Linked DNA regions of Homo sapiens: region 2 is linked to region 1. Evidence: fine-mapped expression QTL. Tissue or cell type: whole blood. Region 1 holds a variant in brackets; the other region holds the start of a gene. All regions are shown on one strand. Distances are from middle to middle.

Evidence for each region. PIP is the estimated chance that this variant, and not a neighbour inherited with it, causes the effect.
Region 2: it holds the start of STK24, and the variant in region 1 is fine-mapped to the expression of STK24 in whole blood (TOPMed, PIP above 0.99).

The regions. Positions count from the first base shown.
Region 1 is chr13:98,684,971-98,693,232 of GRCh38, forward strand. It overlaps SLC15A1 (solute carrier family 15 member 1), which reads right to left. Exons shown (of 23, transcript NM_005073.4): 19 at 3,500-3,607; 20 at 3,278-3,386; 21 at 2,611-2,754; 22 at 1,220-1,327. Among named protein-coding and RNA genes, the nearest start is that of SLC15A1, 64 kb to the right of the region's middle. The variant C/T (reference allele first, on the strand shown) is at 4,281.
Region 2 is chr13:98,573,199-98,581,198 of GRCh38, forward strand. It overlaps STK24 (serine/threonine kinase 24), which reads right to left and starts at 3,909. Exons shown (of 11, transcript NM_001032296.4): 1 at 3,547-3,909. The coding sequence starts at 3,588. It overlaps STK24-AS1 (STK24 antisense RNA 1), which reads left to right and starts at 4,057. Exons shown (of 1, transcript NR_046542.1): 1 at 4,057-5,643. RefSeq lists silencers at 1,419-1,478, 2,943-3,812, 3,863-4,172, 4,193-4,342 and an enhancer at 4,433-4,622.

The sequences.
Region 1 (8,262 bases):
CTGATGAATATATGGTGCGTACATGTTCTTGCTACATGCAGATGGAGAGTGCTTTGAAATTAAATTATGGAAAATTGGTAAGCAACCAATACAGATACAGTAAGCCCAGCTTTTCTGGAATGCCCAAGATAGATAGATGCTAATATAGACAACATGTTTTGAACAGCACTAAGGTACAGAAACAACAGACTTTGGGAAGATGAGAGAAAATTTCTGAAATACTGAAGCCTTAAGACATGTGGCTGGACCTGGAAGGATGGGGACCAAGAGAACAGCAAGCAGTCCCCACAAGGGAAAAATGAATATGCTGAACTCCAGCAAGTTAAGAGCCCCACGTTCCTCCTTGGAAACACCTGGAGCTCATAAGCACACAGCATTAGCACATCTGCTGCTGGGACCTGGTGCAGGAAGTCATGAAACGGATGGGATAACAGCTCCCTTATGAGGCAGACATGCTACAGTGCAGAAGGAAAGAGTGTAAGTATCAGTAGAGCCCTCATTTAATTTTAGCTGGAAAATTTATAACCAACTCTAGGATGGCTTTAACTTCAGGTGTTATGAAAGTTCCAGGATAACATGTGTCTGCTTTGCAGCTGCTAAGCTGCATTCACTGAAGCTAGGAGAGATGTTTCCCTTGATAGTAAAACACATAAGGGCAACTTCAAGTTAACCCATTCCAGCTATTTTGGTTGTCAATTTCCAGCTGCGTTAACAACAAGTGGGAATAAGAAGAATCATCAGGCCAGGTGCAGTGGCTCACACCTCCCAGCACTTTGGGGGGCCAAGGTGGGCAGATAGCGAGGTCAAGAGATCGAGACCATCCTGGCCAACATGGTGAAACACTGTCTCTACTAAAAATACAAACATTAGCCGGGTGTGGTGGTGGGTGCCTGTAGGCTCAGCTACTCTGGAGGCTGAGGCAGAAGAATCACTTGAACCCGAGAGGCGGAGGTTGCAGTGAGCCAAGATTGCGCCACTGCACTCCAGCTGGGCAATAGAGTGAGACTCCGTCTCAAAAAAAAAAAAAAAGAAGAAGAAGAAGAAACAGCAGACACTTTGCCATAAGGCTATTTGGGAACAGCCCTGGCTGGTCTGGCAGTTTAATCCAGCTATTAGCCTAGATGACCACACAGAGCACACAGATGGCTAGGGAAGGCCACCATGATGACCATGAACAGGAAAGACAGAGGTATGTGCAATCTCCTCTCCCACGCCATACCTGTTTGCTGAACTGGCCTGCCCCTGCCACGATGAGCACAATGATGTTGCCAACAGCCACGGTCAGCAGCCATCCTGCCTGAAGCACCGACTTCATGTTGGAAGGAGCCTGAGGAAGCAAAGCAAAGTGAGTCCTGCTCCAGGTCTCACCCTCCGAGCAGGAGAACACAGCTCACCGATGGGCGTTTCGTGAAGCAGATCACCCTAACAATGCACACGAAAAGTCAGGTGGCCTCAATGTAAAAAGGATCATCACTTAAGTAACAAGACACCCAAACATGCACAGACGAGTAGACAAGAATTCCTGTGTTTCACGCTCCACATCCTTGCAAAGCTGTCCCCTTAGTTAAATGGACACATCTACGGAGGAGCTGATCCTATTTCTACAGGAGAGCTTCCAAGCAAAGCCACCCAGCCTGGCATAGTCTTCCCCTCAAATGCAGGCTGCCCTGGGCTGCAAGCTTGCCCTTCTGTGGCTTTCCTGCCACATCTCCAAAATCTCTTCAAACACCTGTCACCTGTATTACAGTTATCTCCTTTATTAGACTGTGAGGTTATCACAGAAAGTGATTTTCTGACTCATCTTGGCCTCTTTACTATAAAAATTGATGGTACTAGGCATTGTGGGCTATAATGCCTATAACTATAGCTCTGACAACACAGTTCAATAATTAAGCTCTAATTTGGGTATCAATAAAACCTAGCTCATTAGTCTAACACACTTAAAAGCAATAATTCTTTTAAACTTTTTCTTTTTCTTCTTTTTTTTTTTTTTTTGAGATGGTGTCTTGCTCTGTTGCGCATGCTGGAGTGCAGTGGTGTGATCACAGCTCACTGCTGCCTCGGACTCCTGGGTTTAAGCAATCCTCCTGCCTCAGCCTCCCAAGTAGCTGGGACCACAAGCGTGCTCTACCATGCTCAGCTAATGTGTTTTTTTAATTTTTTTTAATTTTTAAAGCTAGACCTTATTTGTTATGTTTACTGGGAGCTATAAAGAGACCTCAACCAAACCTATCATGAGGACATAGACCTGTAATTGAGCTGTTTTATGAATGGTTGGTTACATTTGGTTGTTTCAGAAAGGAGAATCTGCTGACCTTCATCACTCTGGTAGCAGTCAGTAATAAATACTGGGCGCTAAATGTCTAGGGTATGACTGTGGGGCTATGGACACATGTGAACACGTGCTCTTGCAAAGTTCAAGACAGTAATAATTCTTATTCACTAAGGACAACACTTGGTGACCTCAGAGACCTTGCTGTAGGGAAGATACCATAATGCTTTCTAGACTTTTTAAAAAATATAGTTATCCCAGATTTAAATTAAGTCCCATCAGCATTTTCTGCAGGCAGGGGTATTGCAGATGGGTGGTAAATACAACAAACAAGAAACCTGAGAATATGAGAATTCCAATCCCGTGACAGAGAAGACCACTTCGCCACAGGTGAGAAGAAAATACTGCGGGATTTGCAGAGCCATGTTAACTGTGTTGGCTGAAATATCTTCAAACACCTTCACTTCAGGGCAGCTGTCATTCTGCAGCAGTAAGGCAAAAGCAGAAGAAGTTGAGATAGCTTCTAAAATAAAAACTGTTCGAACAGGTAAATTGAGTTTGACCTTCTAGGATTACATCATATGATTTGTCAAGTACGTACACATTTTAAACATAAGGCAACACTGCATTTTACACTTGCAATGGGATTTGAAGACACGTTCAGGAGGATTTTTCTTTTAGATAAGAGAGTAGGTTGGAAGTCATTTTAAAACACTGCCCTCTCTTTGAACTATGAGTTCTTTAAGTCCATGTTAATAGTCTAGAAGGAGGCATCAGATATTGGTTAACATAAATTATTATCCAGGGGAAGTCAGTCTGTTTAGATTCTAATGATTAAGTCATCAATAAGTTAAAGAATTAGCCAAGCAAATTAATTCTAAGCCCATTTAAAATACAGATCCTAATATCACTCTAGTTAAATCATATTATGTCCTAAGTGTTTGTGAGTCTTCATATCAATCGAGTATGAGCAGATCTTCTGATACAATGAAACGAGTTACTAACCTTCCTTTGGACTATATAGGTATAAGCACTACCAAATTCAAGGTAGAAAGTATTGAAATTAGGTTGACATTGTGGCGGAATCTCTGTTGAGCTTATTGTGAAGCCTTTTCTATCAAAATAAAGAATAATATTGGTTAACATTCTTGGCATTAAAAATTTCAATGCATTTTTTAAAGAAAAATTCTTGAACCTTTGAGTGAAGCATTCAGTCTCGGTACTTACATGCCAGAAGGAAAAAACTGGTATGTGCTGGCATTGTAGCTGCTGATGTTTGCATAAACTTTCCCACTCATTGTGATGGTGATGAGCTCGTTAAAAGTATTTACAAATCTGAAACAGAAAACCATCTGTCTTGTAACTGAACTAGAGAATAATATATTCTAGGTCACAGTACATGCACCTGAAGTTGGGCAATACTCCCTATTTTGAAGGAGTTTAAGATGTTTTCAGAATATTTCTAGAGAATAAAGACAAAAAGTGAAAAACTCTGGGTTTATCCCTGCTCACCCACTCATGAGAACACACCTAAAAGAATGTATTTAACAGTGTTTATATGTGCTGGTTACTGCTCTAAGTACTTTGTAAATCTAACCTAGTTCAATACATTAGGAATATTAAGCAGGGACTGAAGTAGATACTGAGCCTCTTCCCTTCAAGAAGGTAGCCGTGCCTTTGTGTTCCTTGTTTCAGAAACTTTATTTATTTATTTAGAGATGGAGTCTCGCTCTGTCACCCAGGCTGGAGTGCAGTGGTGCAATCTCGGCTCACTGCAACCTCTGCCTCCCAGGTTCAAGCGATTTTCCTGCCTCAGCCTCCCGCGTAGTTGGGACTACAGGCATGCACCACCACACCCGGCTCATTTTTGTATTTTTAGTAGAGGTGGGGTTTCGCCATGTTGGCCAGGCTGGTCTTGAACTCATGACCTCAGACGATCTGCCCACCTCGGCCTCCCAAAGTGCTGGGATTGCAGGTGGGAGCCACTGCGCCTGGCCAGAAACTTTAG[C/T]GCTCAAGTAGTGAAAGACCAAAACCAGATGCTGCCCAGTTCCTAAAAGATAGACCCCAGTTCCTAAACGACACCCCCTTCTTTAGGGGGTTGAGGAGGAAAGCCCACCTACTTCCTACCTCTAGGAGCCTCAGGTGGGGAAGGGCACCCGGGACTGGAGAGGAAGAAGTGGGCCAGCCCAGTAACAAGAGACGGTTTTTTCAGTCTTTTTTAGAGATGAGGTCTTGCTCTGTTGCCCAGGCTAGAGTGCAGTGATACAATCACAGTTCAATGCAGCCTCGAACTGTGGGCCTCAAGTGATCCTCCCACCTTAGCTTCCTGAGTAGCTGGGACTACAGGTGTGTGCCACAATGCCTGGCTAATTTTTATTTTTATTTTTGTAGAGACAAGGGTCTGGCTGTGTTGCCCAGGCTGGTCTCAAACTCCTGGCCTCAAGAGATCCTCCCTCCACAGCCTCCCAAAGCACTGGGATTATGGGTATGAGTCATTATACCAGGCTGAGAGACAGCTTTAAGGAATCCCCTTCAGAGGGTGGAGGCCTGTGTGGTCCTGGAGTGACAGTGGTCAGCATCCTGCTGGAATACAGCTTTGAATGGATACCCAATAAGACCGACTTCCAGGTCCAAGGCTTCCTATCTCTACAAAGTCCCGTGAGGCTACGCTTCATATGGAAGCAGGTGAATTGTTTGCCTTCATAGGACCATACAGATGGTGAACAGCACGGATGGCTGATTACAGACCCCTTTCATAGCTGTTCCAGGCTATAGACGACCCTGAAACTCTCATACAACCCTAGTGACCAGGACGGTGTTGCTCAAAATAAGACCAGTTGACTTTTCCTACCAAACACATGAGTGAAGGCCTAGAGCAGATTATCCAGGGTAGAGAACAATAAGTCTTACTAGTGTACACCTCAGCAGTGTAAAGAATAATTTAACCTTTCCATGGCTAAAATGTGGGGCCAAGTTTCATCAGTTTTGTGGCAACAAATAATACTGATCAAATTTTAGGTGCTGGGAGAAAATGGCTATGAATTAAACTCAGGTCCTGAAGTCCCGAGGCCTTCTACTTGGTGTCATTTGATAGCTGATTAATATGGAAAATGGAACCTGAGACAGATCCACACGGGCCTTAGCTAGAATTCCCACTGCTCTAGACTGTAAGAGCTGCTTTTATCAAAGATGAAGATCACCCACACAAAAGAGAGCATGTGGGCAGAGTGAAGCCGAGGAAGCAGAACGTTGGGCCTGAGGCCTGGCTTTATAACTTATCAGCCATCAGACTCTGAATGAAACCATCCCTAAGGCTAGAGGATTCTGAGCTGCCTGGCCTATGTCTTAGGGCTGGTGCGACAAGAAATGAAAACACAGTCCGAGTAACTTAATGATGGGGATGGGGTCTGGGAAATGCGTCCGGAGGCGATTCAGTGGTGATGGGAACCTCACAGCGGGCACTTACCCACACCTAGACGGTGCCACCCACCACACACCCAGGCTGCATGGGTGTGGCCTTTGGCTCCGAGGCTACAAACCTGTGCAACGTTGGCTGCACTGAATACTGGAGGCAACTGTGACACAATGGTAAGGATTTGCACATCTAAACATGTCTAAATACTCCCATTCGTTCCTCCCTGGCCCCCTGGCAGCCATTCATCTGCTTTCTGTCTCCATGGCTCTGCCTGCCACTTGATGTCAATGGAATCATTCTATGCAGGTCTCTGTGACCAGCTTCATCCCTCTTAGCATATTGTCTTTCACATTCGTTCATATCGTGGCATGTATCCGTACTCCATTCCTTTTTTGTTTTTTTTTGAGATGGATTCTCACCCTGTTGCCCAGGCTGGAGTGCAGTGGTGCGATCTCGGCTCACTGCAACCTCCGCCTCCCAGGTTCAAGTGATTCTCCTGCCTCAGACTCCCAAATAGCTGGGACTACAGGCCCCCGCCACCGCACCTGGCTAATTTTTTGTATTTTTAGTAGAGAGGGGATGTGTTAGCCAGCATGGTCTCAATCTCCTGACCTCATGACCTGCCCACCTCGGCCTCCCAAAAAGTGTTGGGATTACAGGCGTGAGCCATCACACCCGGCCACTTCATTCTTTTTTATGACTAACATTCCATCATATGGATATACCACCTTTTATCAGCTGATGGACATTGGATTTATTTGTACGCTTTCTCTATTGTGAATAATGCTGCAATGAACATGCATGCACAAGTTTTTGTGTGGACATGTTTTCATCTCTTCTGGGTGACACCTCACATGTCACATTTGGCAGGCTTCCAAATCAACCACCTGAGGAAGGTCTCACAATACATGGCGTATAGCCTGTCTGTGAGTAAAGAGTGACTCCCTCCAATCTTATTGTGTTGATATCTGATTAATACGTAGCCCACTAACACTGAAAAGGATGCAGATTTGCTTCTGAATCATGACGTTTTACTGACTTTCTTGTGGTAAAACATTTTAGCCCATATGTTGTCATCTGTAGCCAGTGATCATAACCTCTGTATTATAACCTCCAATGAAAATGGAAAGCTTGAGCGGGGCACGGTGGCTCACGCTTGTAATCCCAGCACTTTGGGAGGCCGAGGTGGGCAGATCATCTGAGGTCGGAAGTTTGAGACCAGCCTGACCAACATGGAGAAATCCCGTCTCTACTAAAAATACAAAATTAGCTGGACATGGTGGTGCATGCCTATAATCTCAGCTACTCGGGAGGCTGAGGCAGGAGAATCGCTTGAACCCAGGAGGTGGAGGTTGCGGTGAGCCGAGATCGCACCATTGTACTCCAGCCTAGGCAACAAGAGCGAAACTCCATCTCAAAAAGAAAAAAAAAGAAAATGGAAAGCTCTAATATGAGGAGTCCCCCTCTCTTCTCCTAAACTTTTTTTTTTTTTTTTTTTTTTTTTTTTTTTTTTTAAGACAAGGCCTCACTCTGTCACCCAGGCTGGAGTGCAGTGGTGCAATCATGGCTCACTGCAGCCTTGAACTCCTGGGCTCAAACAATCCTCTCACCTCAGCCTCCTAAGTAGCTAGGACTGCAGGAGTGCATCACCATGCCTGGCTAATTTTTAAATTCTTATATTTGCAGAGAGGGAGTTTTGCTTTATTGCCCAGGTTGGTCTTGAACTCCTGGCCTCAAGTAATTCTCCTGCCTCCACCTCCCAAAGTGCTGGGATTACAGCCATGAGCCACTAAACCCGGTCTTCCTAAACTTTCTTATAAGAGTCTTCCAACTTGCAGTAGACTCTGGGACATGCCCTACTTTGCTGATGTCTCTTTCCAGGTTGATCCTCACATTTGGCTTCCAATAAATCAAATTATTTCTGCCTCAACACCCGTAATTTTGGTCAACATGGTTATATACCCAGGAGTGAAACTGCTGAGTTTTGTAGTAAAACTCTATGTTTAACATTTCAAAGAACTGTTTTTCAAAGTGGCTGTACCATTTTAGATTTACCACCAGCAATGAATAAGGGTACTAATTTTTATTTATTTGTTTGTTTGTTTGAAGACGGAGTCTCACTTTGTCACCCAGGCTGCAGTGCAGTGGCACCAACATGGCTTATTGCAGCCTCGACCTCCCGGGGCTCAGGTGATCCTCCCACCTCAGCTTCCCGAGTAGCTGGGACACACCACCATGCCTGGCTAATTTTTGTCTTTTTTTGTAGGGACAGGGTTTTGCCATATTGCTCAGGCTGGTCTTGAAATCCTGGGTTCAAGCACTCAGCCCACCTTGACCTCTCAAAGTGCTGGGATTATAGGCATGAGCCACCATGCCCAGCCAAGGGGTCCAGTTTACCCGCATCCTTAACAACACTTGTTATTGTCTACGTTTTTTTTTTTTTTTTTTTTTTTTTTTGAGACGGAGTTTCAATCTTGTTGCCCAGGCTGGAGAGCCATGGCACAGTCTCAGCTCACTGCAACCTCCGCCTCCCGGGTTCAAGCGATTCTCCTGCCTCAGCCTCCCAAGTAGCTGG
Region 2 (8,000 bases), 110 kb before region 1:
TATATTTCTTACATGGGTCACGGTTCAGAAAAGTTGAAAAGTGACTGATAAAATTTTGTAACAGAAATGTGCAAACCAAAATCTCATTTTTAAATCACATTTCTGCAAACTCAAAGCCGATTGGTGTTCCTGCCTCCATCTGAAGCTTTTCTTTTAATCTCAATTGAGTGAAACAACAAATGCTCAATGAAAGACGGAGTACTTATAGCCACAGATCAGCCTGATTTCTTTATGTTTATTCGTCACTATATTCATTCAGTTTCTGATGTCTATTTTTTTCCCCTACTGAAATATAAAACTGGGGTTTAAGAGAAAAAAAGCAAAGGCTTCAGCAACTTTCATTAAACATTTACTTTAAATGGTAACCTCATTCAGATCTACCACTTTCAACCCCTCCCCTAGGACCTGGCACATGAAAGTTCAATAAGGGTTGCTGATTGAATAAATTAAAAAATCAGCCTCCTATTTCTAATTTCTTTAGCCAATCTAACTAGCAATGAGATAAACTTTAATGTTTGCAAAAGTAACCATAAAACAGTAACACTGCATGATGAGTGGGAGTAGGAGGAGTAGTAGTTTCCAATCACAAATTTGCCACATAATATATGATCTCACCTTGGTCAGTTAAGTCTTCCTTGGTCTCCACATCTACAAAATGGTATAATATCATCTACATCTCAAACGGTACCGGTAAGAATCAAGAGGCATAAAAATGATTTGCAAAACATTGAAAAATGGTGTTTATACTAACATGGTTGTTATTTTTCAAGCATCCTTGCCTAGGCCACCTGAATTCACTCTGCTTTATTTTTTTATTTTATTTTTTTTTTTGAGACGGAGTCTGCCTCTGTCGCCCAGGCTGGGGTGCAACGGCACAATCTCAGCTCAACGCAACCTCCGCCTCCCGGGTTCAAGTGATTCTCCTGCCTCAGCCTCCCGAGTAGCTGGGATTACAGGCGTGTGCCACCACGCCCAGCTAATTTTTTGGATTTTTAGTAGAAACAGGGTTTCACCATGTTAGCCAGGATGGTCTCGATCTCCTGACCTCATGATCCGCCCACTTCGGCCTCTCAAACTGCTGAGATTACAGACTCTGCTGTCTTTCTAAGCCAACTCCTTATAAGCCCTGGTCAGGAGACAAGAAAAAGGGAGGGCTATGAGGCCTATCAGAGCAAGCCATAGAAGAGATACGGACTTCTCTCCTCCCATTTAGCAGACAACAGTCGAAAGCAGGTGTGTTTTTAATTGAATCTTCAGCAACAACTCTTAGGGAAGCCTCCCAGGGCAGTAGCAACTGCTAATTTGAAGTAGAAAATAAATGTGCTGTTGTTTTTCTTTTGTGGGGTGGGGGAGGAGAAAAGAATGTTCTTCCCCAAATGATACACTGTTACCATACAGTCTGTAGATGTACTTAGGTACAGGAATGACTGGCAGAAGCCAACTTACCTACCTCTAAAACTGTAAAACTGTAACAGCTGAAAATCTGATCATCTTTTCCACTGAGAAACACTTAAGATCTTTCATACTGAGAAAACAAAATAAAAACAGTTCCCATGTAACACAACCTAACAGATACATAATAGTTGAGAGGCAAAGTTATTAAGGAAATGTATCTTCTTTTCCCAAGGTTTAAGAATTCTGACCCACTCAAAAAAAAAAGTGAGGATAAAAATGAAAAGGTGAGATACTAGATATCACCTGGTAACCATCTGATACTGACTTCACGGCACCAGCCAAAGGGGCTTTAGTACCTTTTCAAACTGATTCGCTATCCACAAAGGCCAATTAACCTAGTAAGTGAGGCATTTGTGCTAGATTCCAACCTGATGAACACGGTATAAATATCAACCTAAAGGAAATATTGATAAAACTTTTTTTTTAAATCATTACAAGAGTCCTTTCTTGCTCGACTAGTAAGAAATTACTTTTTTCACCCAGTTCACTCTGACCTACACACCTCTAAATTCATACCAAAGCGGCTTTAGAAAATACCAAGAAACCACATCTGATTGTTACCCAGCAGTCAGCAGAAGTTTAGGTTTTGAATGCATGCTAAATTCAACGCTCCTTAAATGAGAGTCGACAAAAGAATATTCTTCAAGCATCTTCCCAGTCACTCTTAAGATAATAACTTAACTGTTGCTGCTTAAATGTATATTTATTTACTGCTTAAACATATATACACACATATATATACTGCTTATATATACACACACACACACACACACACATATACACACACACACACTTGGACTAAAATTCTAGCTGCCATTAAAGTGGTAACTTTGAGTTCCTATTTTTCCAGAATTCAAACCTGAACAGTGAAATCCAGTTTTCTTTTTACGGTTTCAAAAAAAGAAGGGAGAGGGATGATCTCACTGGAAGAGGCGAGCAGACCCCAGAGGCAGTCCCAGGTCTGGGCTCTGTGCTTCTCAGCCCTCAAGACACAGGGAAGGAGCCTGTTGGTACCTGTAAATCAACCAGTAATCTACTTGGATGCTTTTGGTTTTCTTCAAACACTTAACGTTCACTCAGCTAAACTGGCAGAGCAAACTTTCATGACATATCCTAACTGCATCCTAAGATTTCCATCCTAAGCATTTTGCCACCATTTCTGCGCCTACAAAGTTTACAAGAGTTAGCCAAGGACGGTAGCTTTGTTTTTCAAAGGGCTAAAAGCAACGACAACGAAAACAACAACAACAAAAAACCTTTAACTTATACATGTAAATTTGAAATTCAACTCCTCTCCCACTCCCCAAAAAGTCACTGGTAGGCCAAGGTGTCACCAAGTACCGAAAGAGAGGTTTACTGGGCGAAGAATTCCTGTAAATGCAACCAAGTCTCAAAGTGAAAGTCCAGGGTCCCGGGGCCGGGCCCGGGACCCTGGTGCGCGGCTGTCCGAGGGATTCCTCCTTCCAGAAGGTTTGCAACTCGCACTTTCCCCCGGTCCGCAGGTGCACGGGGGCTCCGGGCAAAGCCACTGCAAGTGGAACTCGCGGTTACCTTCCTCCACTCCACCCTGCCTACTCCGCTCGGGCCCGGACGAGTCCAGGCGCGCTCCCCGTCCCCGCCCTGCCCAGGTCTCCCGCCCGCCTGCCCGGGGGTGGGGGACGAGCCTGGGGGACGCGTCCTGGGGCCCTCCGCCAACCCGGCCACCACGCAGGGCCCCGGGACCCGGCGGGGGCCTCCAAGGGCATCACTCCACCTCACTTCTCCCGGGGACAGGGCCACCCAGGGCCTGCAGCTCCGGAAGAGTGTTGGGGCGAGGGGAGCGCGGAGGACTAGGCGCCCGCACCCCCACATCCGGACCCAGGCCGCGGTTCCTACGGCTCCTGCACGCACACGCCGGAGACCTCGGCCGCCGGAGCCGGCAGGGACGCCCAGGGACTCGGACTCGGACCCCCGGCCGAGCCGGGCGCGCGGGGAGCCAGGCTCCGGCGCGACCCCGGCCGGCTGAGCGTAGGGGGACGCCGTGTGGATACCGCCAAGTTGCTGCTTCCGCCCCGGTCGCGCATCCCGGCCCCGCGGCCCGCGCCCGCCTACCTGCATGCCGGGCAGGCCCGACTGCACCGGGGAGTGAGCCATGGCGCTCAGGACGGCCACTTCCTGGGACGGGACGGCCGGGCCGCGACGATCCGCGCGGGGCGGCGAGGCCCGCGGGCCGCGCGCAGCCCTCGGGCGGCGGGGCCGGCCGGAGCCCGAGGCCACCCCAGCCCTGGCGGGTCCCGGCCGGGCGGCGGGGGCTCAGCGGCGGGTGGCGGGCCGCGTCTCCATGCACGGCGCCAGGGAGGAGCTGCTGGGGGCGCAGGGCCTCGCGCGCACTGCCGCCGCCGCCGCTGCTGCCGCTACTGCTGGGCTGGAGCCGGGCGGCCTGGGCCCGCGCGCGCTGGCCGCTGGAGCCGGAGTGGGCGCGCACAGCCCGCCGAGCCCGCGAGCGCCGAGCGCGTCCCGCCCCGGCCCGGCCCCCGCGCCCGCCCCCACGGCCCGGCCGGGGACCCCGCCCCGCGCTTCCGGGAGGGGGAGGGGAGAGGCCGGTGGCCGCGCGGGAGCCCTAGGCCGCAGCCGCCGCCTGTCGGCCCGGCCCGGGTCCCAGCTGCTCCTGCGGCGCTCCCACGCCCCCGCGGGCGGGCGGCGGGGCCGGGAGGGGGCCTCGGCTGGGGCGGGCGCCGGGAGGGACCGAGTCGGGGCCGGAGGCTGGCCGCGTGCCCACCGGGCCGGCGCCGGGGCGAGCCTGGGCCGCGGCCCCCTCTTCCCGCCAGCCAGCCCACCCCGCCCCGGCGGCCTCTGGGAAAACGCGTCCCGGGCGAGCCCCTGAGGGCAGGATCGGAGTCGGGGGCACCTGGGGAAGGAGAGCGCCCCGTGGGGCCTCGGCCGGTGGCCTGTGCCAAAAGGCCGGGCAGAGCTGCTTCGGTGTCTGGGTGAAGTTTCCAGCCAACCCAAGAAGGAAACCGAAAGGGAAGAGGCCGAGAGAGAGGTTAATTCCTAGTGCTTTGGTTACCGAAAACAGCCCGGCTGGGACTGCTGGGCTGGGAACTTAGCTAAGCAGTGCGGAGGCTGAACCCCACCATCTCTGGGATCCGCAGCAAATCAGAAGCCCCCACCCACGATAAGGGGAAAATGGGGCGCAGAGGGCAGGGAGGAAGGGAAGAGAATGGAAGGAAAGCGCGTCTGGACTTTGAACTGCAGCCCTCTCCCTCTTTCCCTTGCCTCGGAAGCTCCAGGCCCACTCAGCACCAGTTCTGTCTCCTCTTTTCAGCCGCCTTCTCTCTAGCTACTGAGGGGAAAAGTCAGGATGAAGCGGGTCCCTCGGCCTCCAGAAGGTGTTTTATTACAGTCGCAAACAGGTAGAGCGGCAGCCACCCCAGTGATGACTCCCTGCTCCTTAGATTGTAGGGACGCTGGCACCTCACTCATGCTCCTAAGTGGCCATTTTGCGCCCTGGCTGGGCGAGTTAGGCAGACAAAATGAGCCCCCAAAAGTTTAAAGGCCTCCACCAAAGGAGTATTTCTTTTCTGAGGTGTCATTGTATTCCATCCACGAACTTCAGTTCCCCCGGGTGCTCTGGATCTGACATGGAGTAGGATGCTAACATCTAATCCCTTCTTTCCCTTTGGAAAGATGCATGTTTTTTCTCGGAGTCCTAGGGAATACCTTAGAATACTTTCATGGTTGTCATTGGTACACCCATCCCTTGAGGAGCCCTGCCACCCGTAAGTAGGACTGCAAGGAAATACAAAATTAAGAGAAGTATGAACCCTGATACCCAGGAACTTAAAATCAGGTGTATAAATTTTGTACACCTAAAAAATATGGTACCTAAAGAGGCGAACAGCAAAACAAGCAAGAATGTGAATCTTTAAAATGTTTCTATTCTTCAGCGCAGCCCAGGAATTCTACCTAAAGTAACATATCCTAAGGCAACAACCAAGAAGTGTGGAAGAATGCATGTAAGAAGACACAGTGATGTTTAGAATCCTGGGGAAACGGAACAGCCAAAAAGTCTCACAGAGGTTAAGTAAATAATAGCATTTTCATACGAGTACTATGTAGTCATTTAAAATTATGTCTTTCAGTACCTAGTAATGGGGAAAATGTATTCATTATATATTATTAAAGAAAATACAGGGTACAAAACACTGTATATAGACTGATCTCAAATGACTATATATATATTAATATATATGGCCTACAGACACACAGTCATGTATTGCTTAACAATGGGTATACATTCTGAGAAATGTGTTCTTAGTTGATTTTGTCACGTGAGCATCATAGAGTGTACTTCCAGAAACCTAGATGGCATAGCCTACTACACACCTAGGCTATATGGTATGACGTATTGCACCTGGACCACAAACCTGAACAGCATGTGACTGAACTCAATACTGGAGGCAACTATAACACAATGGTAAATATTTGTGGATCTAAACATGTCTAAGCATAGAAAAGGGACAGTAAAAATATTCTTCTAGGGTCAGCAGAGCCAGGGCAATAACCTGGCACCAAGATAAAGAGCAAGAAACTAGATGAATGGATGGAAATGTCTGGATGCTGATCTGAGACATTACCATGGTAAATGCTCAGAAATCACTTTGCAGTGGGCTAATTGCCAGCAAATAAGTCACAGCAGATGGGGGACAAAGGCCCATAGTACCCTGGGTATAAAAAAATAACCGGAATCCTAGTTTGTGTCCTGAGGCTAGTGAGGCTCAAAACAGGGAGATTCCGGCAGGATGTAACTTCTCTGGACACAGTGACTTGCATCCATTAGCTGGTCTGTTGCCCCGAACCCTGTTTATCTTCTCTCCACACTGACCATTGTTTCATCCTTTGACAATGTTCATACTGTTGAGCACCATTCTTATCGAAAGAAGGGAAGGAAGCAACATGGGAGTTACTGGTTCTCCTTGGCCCTATGCAGGTAGTACCGAGTATTCCCCATGGCAGAAGTAGGTCTCCACCTTATTTGTTTTTGCACAACAGAGATGATGCACAGGGCCTGAGCCCGGGATCAGATCCGGTGCAATTGCCTATTATGTTCATTCATTCACACCTTTTTTGAATACCAACTATTAATACATGTCAGATACCCAGTTCAGTACTGGGCATATAAACATTAGATCCTCAGGTGCCTCTTAACCCATCCTAGGGACCTGGTCTCCCAGAATCCTAACTTTGGATGAATACAATACCATAATTGATTAAACTTAGAGTGGCAATAGCTATCATTTCCACCAAGGAAAGAAAAGGATCATCCTCTCACCCTCTTCCTCTTGTCACTTTCCCTCCACCCCCAATGTATGATTACAACAGGTTATACACTACCGTAAGTCCAGAAGGAGATTATGAGAGTCTCCATAGAGATGATGCATTTTATGGTCTCCATGGAGATACTAACCCATTGAGTTATTTACTTTATCCATTGAATTATTTTTCTTCCCTGGTCCTCTTTGTCTTTTGTGTTCACTTAAGGACATCAGTCTGGCAATGAATTATGATCTGAAATATATTCTGGACCACAAAGAATATTTCCATACCCCTATATGGAGCCCCTCCAAATATAAAGCCCCTATGTATTTGCTGCCCCTAAGCTAGTTTGTACGCACTCTCAGCAGAGCTCAGAGAGGAACAGAAAACAAGAATTCCACAATCAATCCCTTCACTTTTCTTTCTAAGTTGAAAAGATAAACACCCCCAAATGCTGCTTTATAAAGAACAGCTAGACAAGTAGAGCATTAGCAATTTAAATTCAGAGATTAAAGAAAGGGACTTACATGGTGAACTTTAAAGGGAGAAATAGGAGTAGCTTGGATAAGTAACTAACAGAAGGCTTAGACAAATTTCTACACATGTTCAGTAGGTGAAGACAAATTATCAAGATCAGTTTAAAGAAGAATGTCTAGTCATTGTTGGATGACACAATAGCAAGAAAAGGTATGCCAAAGCCCCAGAAAAATATCCCAGCTACATTGAGGAATGGTACCAATAAGGTTTCATTCTGTGCGTGGAGAGCTCAGAGGGCAGGCTCTTGCAGGGATATCACCCTAAGTAGGTTTTCAGTTGCACCCTGCCTTAGTTTGCTAGGGCTGCCGTAACAAAGAACCACCAACTGGATGGCCAAAACGACAGAAATTTATTTCCTCACCATTCTGGAGGCTGGAAGTCCAAGATGAAGGTGTCAGCAAGATTGGTTTCTTCCGAGGCCTCTCTCGGGCTTGTAGCGGCCAGCTTCTCCCTCTGTGTTCTCGTGGTCTTCACTGTGTGTTCCTGTGTCCTAATTTCCTGTTTTTATTATTTATTTATTTATTTATTTATTTATTTATTTATTTATTTTGAGATGGAGTCTCGCTCTGTTGCCCAGGTTGGAGTGCAGTGGTGAGATCTCGGCTCCCTGCAACCGCTGTCTCCCAGGTTCAAGCATTTTTCTTGCCTCAGCCTCCCTGGTAGCTGGGACTACAGGCGAGCGCCACCACACCCGGCTAATTTTTGTATTTTTA